Regions from separate parts of the Homo sapiens genome. Here region 2 is linked to region 1. The links come from fine-mapping of genetic effects on gene expression. Tissue or cell type: whole blood. Region 1 holds a variant in brackets; the other region holds the start of a gene. All regions are shown on one strand. Distances are from middle to middle.

Region 1 (2,762 bases):
TGTTGACTACAGTTAATAACAATGTGGTAATACTTGAAATTTTTGAGACAGCAGATTTTAAATGTTCTCACCACAAAAAAAAAAGATAAGTATCTGAGGTAACTGATATGCTAGGTAGCTTGATTTAGCCATTCTACAATGTCTGTCTGTTGCTATACATATATATACACAGATTTAGCTATTCTACAATGTGTGTGTGTGTGTGTGTATGTAAAATGTGGTATAGCATAAATACATACAATTTATCAATTAAATTTTAATTCCAAAGATTTTTTTGACTAATATATAACCCAACCACAAGTTTGAGAGTTCTAATTAGATGTCCTTTCCAACACCTGATTTTGTCAGTCTTCCTTTTACATATTCTGGTTAGTGGATAATGTTATTTCGTTTTCATTTATTTTGGTCTTCTGATTATTAAAAGGCCTGATACCACTTTCATAAATGTTTATTGAAAATGTATATAATCAGGCTGGGCACGGTGGCTCATGCTTGTAATCCCAGTACTTTGGGAGGCCGAGGTGGGCGGATCTCTTGAGGTCCGGAGTTCGAGACCAGCCTGGCTAACATGATGAAACCCCGTCTCTATTAAAAATACAAAAAAAAATTAGCTCGCCATGGTGGCAGGCGCCTGTAATCCCAGCTACTCGGGAGGTTGAGGTGGGAGAATTGCTGGAAACCGGGAGGCAGATGTTGCAGTGAGCCAAGAACGTGCCACTGCACTCCAGCGCGGGGGACAAGAGCGAAACTCGCATGGTGGTGCGTACGCCTGTAATCCCAGCTACCCAGGAGGCTGAGGCAGGAGAATCGCTTGAACCCGGTAGGCAGGTTGCAGTGAGCCGAGATTGCGCCATTGCACTCCAGCCTGTGCTTCAAGAGCGAAACTCCGTCTCAAAAAAACAACAAAAAAAGAAAATGTATATAATCATATTTTCAGGGGTCTATGCAATTTTTTATACTTTTTCCAATGTGGTTATCAATCTTTCTAAATGATCTTCGAGAAGTTTTTAAAAATAAATTCTTGACATAAATTTTTGGGATTTTGTCAGTTAAAGGTGGAAATATCTTCTCTTTAAGAAAGAGCTTGGCTGGGCGTGGTGGCTCACGCCTGTAATCCCAGCATTTTGGGAGGCCGAGGCGGGCTGATCACGAGGTCAGATCGAGACCATCGTGGCAAACACGGTGAAACTCCATCTCTACTAAAAACTACAAAAAAAAATTAGCCGGGCATGGTGGCGGGCGCCTGTAGACCCAGCTACAGGCTGAGACAGGAGGCAGGAGAGGAGGCTGAGACAGGAGAATGACGTGAGCCCGGGAGGCGGAGCTTGCAGTGAGCGGAGATCGCACTCCAGCCTGGGCGACAGAGCCAGACTCAGTCTCAAAAAAAAAAAAAAAAAGAAAGAAAGAAAGAAAAGGAAAAAACAAAGAGCTTATTAGGCCGGGCACGGTGGCTCACGCCTATAATCCTAGCACTTTGGGAGGCCGAGGCCGGCGGATCACGAGGGCAGGAGATTGAGACCATCCTGGCTAACATGGTGAAACTCTGTCTCTGCTAAAAATACAAAAAATCAGCCGGGCGTGGTGGC[A/G]GGCGCCTGTAATCGCAGCTACTAGGGAGGCTGGGGCAGGAGAATCGCTTGAACCCAGGAGTTGGAGGTTGCACTGAGCCGAGATGGTGCCACTGCACTCCAGCCTGGACTACAGAGCAAGACTCCGTCTCAAAAAAAAAAAAATAAATAAAATAAAATAAAAAGAGCTTATTAATGGATAATCATTGGAGATGTTAAGTTTTAGGTAAGATAGAAAAAAGGGTCTTTTAACATAGTTGTATTATATATATTTTTGCCTTGTATTTTCATGTTACAGAATGGGTCTAACTTTGGGTCAATATATGTGTTCACTTAATTTTTTTCTAAATTTGGAAGTAACCTGAAATTTACACAAAGACTGCAATAGAATTACAAAGGATAGCCAGGTTCCTCTTAGACTGACACACAGTTAACGTTTAATCCTGCTTGTTTTATCATTTGCTCTTTCTATACACAAATTTTTCTTGAATCATTTCAATTTCATACATTACTCTTCTTTACCTCTAAATACTTCAATATGCATTTCTCAATAATGAGGATATTATTAATACTTTACACAACCATGATACAGTTATCAACTGCAGTAAATTTAACATCAATACATTACTTTTATCTATTCTGTTGCTTGTATTCCAGTTTTGAAAAATTGAACCAATAATGTCTTTAGGAGATTTTCTCTCACACAAGACCTAGTCAAAGATCCTGTATTGTATTTGGTTGTCATGATGCTTTAGTCTCTTTTAATTTGGAAGTTATTCAGCTTTTCCTTGTCTTATGTGACATTAATATTTTTGAAGAATGCAGTCCTTTTAATAGTCCTCATTTTGGAGTTTGTCAAATATTTCCTCATGATTAGATTCCCATTATGCATTCCCAGCCAGAATAGTACACACATTATGCTGTGTCCTTCTCATGGTATCACATCTGAGGCACAGAATGGCCATGTGCTGCTTACTCATATTAATTTTGATCATGTAATCAAAGTTTTTGCCAGTTCTTCCACTATATAATTATTTTTTGCCTTGCAATTGCTAATCATAACAAGCAATCTCTGGAAAAGATACTTCAATTCTATGCAAATATCCTGTTCCTCATCAAAATTTCCCCTTAGATTTAGCATCCATTGATTCTTGCTTGAATCAGTCTTTACTGTTATGGCTACAAAATGATAGTTTT
Region 2 (2,631 bases), 28 kb after region 1:
AGATTGCTGGACCCCACCTCAAAGTAATAAGCATTAGTTGAGCCTGGGGTACAATCCAGAAATCTAACAACCACCCCAGGGGGAATTCTGGTGTAGGAGGTCACAGCACAACCTTCATGAAACTGGTCAGGTAGAATGGAAGTCAGTCATTAACTACTACGCCTGTTTTCTCCTATGTAAAACAAAACATTTTTGACAACCAAAGAGGTGAATTCTTGCCATAGAAGTTAACATTTCACTCACATTTTGGGGGTAGCTTTGAAGGGTCCACTGTGTGCCCAGCTGCCATGGAAAGGGCGGTGCTCCCATACCAAGCCCTTCAGTCTCACTTAAAAAGCCCATCCATCCCCAAGACAATGGAGACAGCCAGCCAAGAGCCACCTCCCCTGAGCCAACCGTTTTCCCTTCAGGAGCAGGAATTTCGTCCTTCCACGCTACAAGTTCAACACGTCCGCAATTCTCACCTCCTTTCTCAGGCATTTCAGCCAAATCTGTCTCCATGATCACCACCTCCTCCTTGTTCTGGAGATTCTGCTCTTCACCCCAATTCAGATCTCCCTGGCCAGACGAGTTAGAAGCCCCCCGGGCCTCGTGGTCCCACTTCCTGCCTTCCCTCCTGGGCTCTGATGAAAGGCCTGGGTTAGATCGGGTCTCTTTCTCACCGTGGAGTCTGCCTCAGTCCTACGGCGCTGGAGCCTGGAAGCCCGGGGACAGCATCCCTGAGGCTGGGTCCTCAGATGTCTGTCCCTACCGCTTGAAGCTGTCCCTGGGGGAACCGGGCACCTGGAAGAGGTGACGCTGGGGCATCAGGAGTTTGGACAAATTCTGCCGCGCTCGGGGCACTGGCCCAGAACCCCGCGACCACCCCGCCCGTGGCACAACCGCGTCCCCCGAGGAGAGGATCAGGCCAGAGTGAGAAGGGACAGGGCTCATGGTCTGCCCTCGAGGCCCCTTTAACAAACGCGCACTCTAGCCCCGACTCGGCACAGAACGACCCGGGGAACCACCGCCGAGGCCGAGCCGAGACGAGCGACATCACCACAAGCAACTCACCTCCCATCCCGGGCCTCACAAAGGGGACGAACTTCTTTGGCCAGCTCGGAGTCGCGCATGCGTAAGAAGGAGCGGAGCCAGGCGTGCTGCCCTCATCCCGCCCGGAACTACAATTCCCAGAAGCGCCTTGGCATCGCCAGACTCCGGTTCTCCGCAGGTGGGAGCACCCGTGGTGCGGCTGGGAGAATCGGACGATCGAAGAGCTCCGTCCGTCTCGCGAGAGTATGAGGCAGCATCTCCTGTGTCTAATCCTCAGAGCAAGGGAGGGAGGGAGCAGCGGAGACGCGGACCGGAGTCAGGGTCCGTCCCCGCGCTTTGTCTGCACAAGTTCCTGCGGCACAGTGCTTAGGGCTGCTGAGTTCAACCCAAATTACTCCGGTGTAAGATACGTTAAAATACATAGCTTTTATCCATATTTTGTGCGCCCAGAACTCATCCTTTTGCTTTCAAAACATACGAAGGATGTTTTTAGGAAGAGCAGGTCCCTCTTTGTACACTCAGTCAGATGTTCCTGTATCCACAGACTACTTGTAATCCTAAAATTCATGTATTTAAAATGAGTTGAAAAGATTGAACCTGTTGTAACAAATTTAAGCAATAGGTTCTTTGCAGACATAAGCATTAGTTTAAACATATCATAAAAGGTGGTTCTTTCAAGGGAGAGTTATTCAGTCTCTCCAATTCTGTTAGAGGACTAACCCATCCACCTCCAGCTTCGTGTCTAGACTGCCCTCCTTTTCTCAGTGAATGACATTACTGCCCACTCACTCATTTGCACAAACCAGAGCCTGAATATTCTTAACTCTTTGATCTCACCATCTATTTATCACCAAGTCCTATTCATTGTATCTTAAATAACTCAATTGTTTCCATCTTTCTCTATTCTCAGTAGCATTACCTTAGTTGGGGCCACCACCATTTCACTAGGATTGCCGTTGCAGCCTGGTAACTGGATTCCCTAACTAAGGTTTTCTCTACCACCAATCTGTTCTCCACACTTTCTGGCTAGTGCTCTTTCTAAAACAAGAATATGCTATTACTTTAGTGCTTCAAACCGTTCAGTGGCTTTTAGAAACTTCAAGGAAAGATGATTTCCAGCTCCCAGAAGGGATTTGTAACTCCCATTATCTCAGCCACCTGGTAGTTACACCTTTGTGCAATCCCCTCTTGTGTATGGACTGGGACTTGCTTCTAACCAATACAGTGCAATAAAGGTGACATAAAAGTCTAACGTGTGTCTTGCTAGGAGACTCCTCTCTTGCTGGCTTTGATGAAGTGGTGGTGATGTTGGGGAGGCCCATATGACAAGGAACTGAGGATGGCCTCCAGCCAATAGCCTGCAAGAACCGAAGGCCCTTGGTCCCACAACCTGCAAGGAGCTGAACCCTTTGGACAGCTCTGTGTGCTTGGAAGTGAATCATTGTTTGTAGAGTCTTCCCATGAGAACCCTGTCTTGCCTGACATCTTGATAGCTGGCTGCAAAGGACTCACTTAAGCTGTGCTCAGACTCTCACCCATAGAAACTATGAGATAATAAACATGTGCTATTTTGGACCACTGAGTATGTGGTCATATTGT

What was found. PIP is the estimated chance that this variant, and not a neighbour inherited with it, causes the effect.
Region 2: it holds the start of ZNF286A, and the variant in region 1 is fine-mapped to the expression of ZNF286A in whole blood (TOPMed, PIP above 0.99). The same link has a PIP of 0.9 or more in hypothalamus, sigmoid colon and tibial nerve.

Annotation. Positions count from the first base shown.
Region 1 is chr17:15,726,112-15,728,873 of GRCh38, reverse strand. The region is part of intron 6 of ZNF286A-TBC1D26 (ZNF286A-TBC1D26 readthrough (NMD candidate)); the gene reads right to left. Among named protein-coding and RNA genes, the nearest start is that of TBC1D26, 4.8 kb to the left of the region's middle. The variant A/G (reference allele first, on the strand shown) is at 1,587.
Region 2 is chr17:15,698,200-15,700,830 of GRCh38, reverse strand. It overlaps ZNF286A (zinc finger protein 286A), which reads right to left and starts at 1,079. Exons shown (of 6, transcript NM_001130842.2): 1 at 1,054-1,079; 2 at 465-696. The coding sequence starts at 501. ZNF286A-TBC1D26 (ZNF286A-TBC1D26 readthrough (NMD candidate)) reads right to left here and starts at 1,079. Exons shown (of 23, transcript NR_171000.1): 1 at 1,054-1,079; 2 at 465-783. RefSeq lists enhancers at 956-1,275, 1,286-1,335, 771-1,382.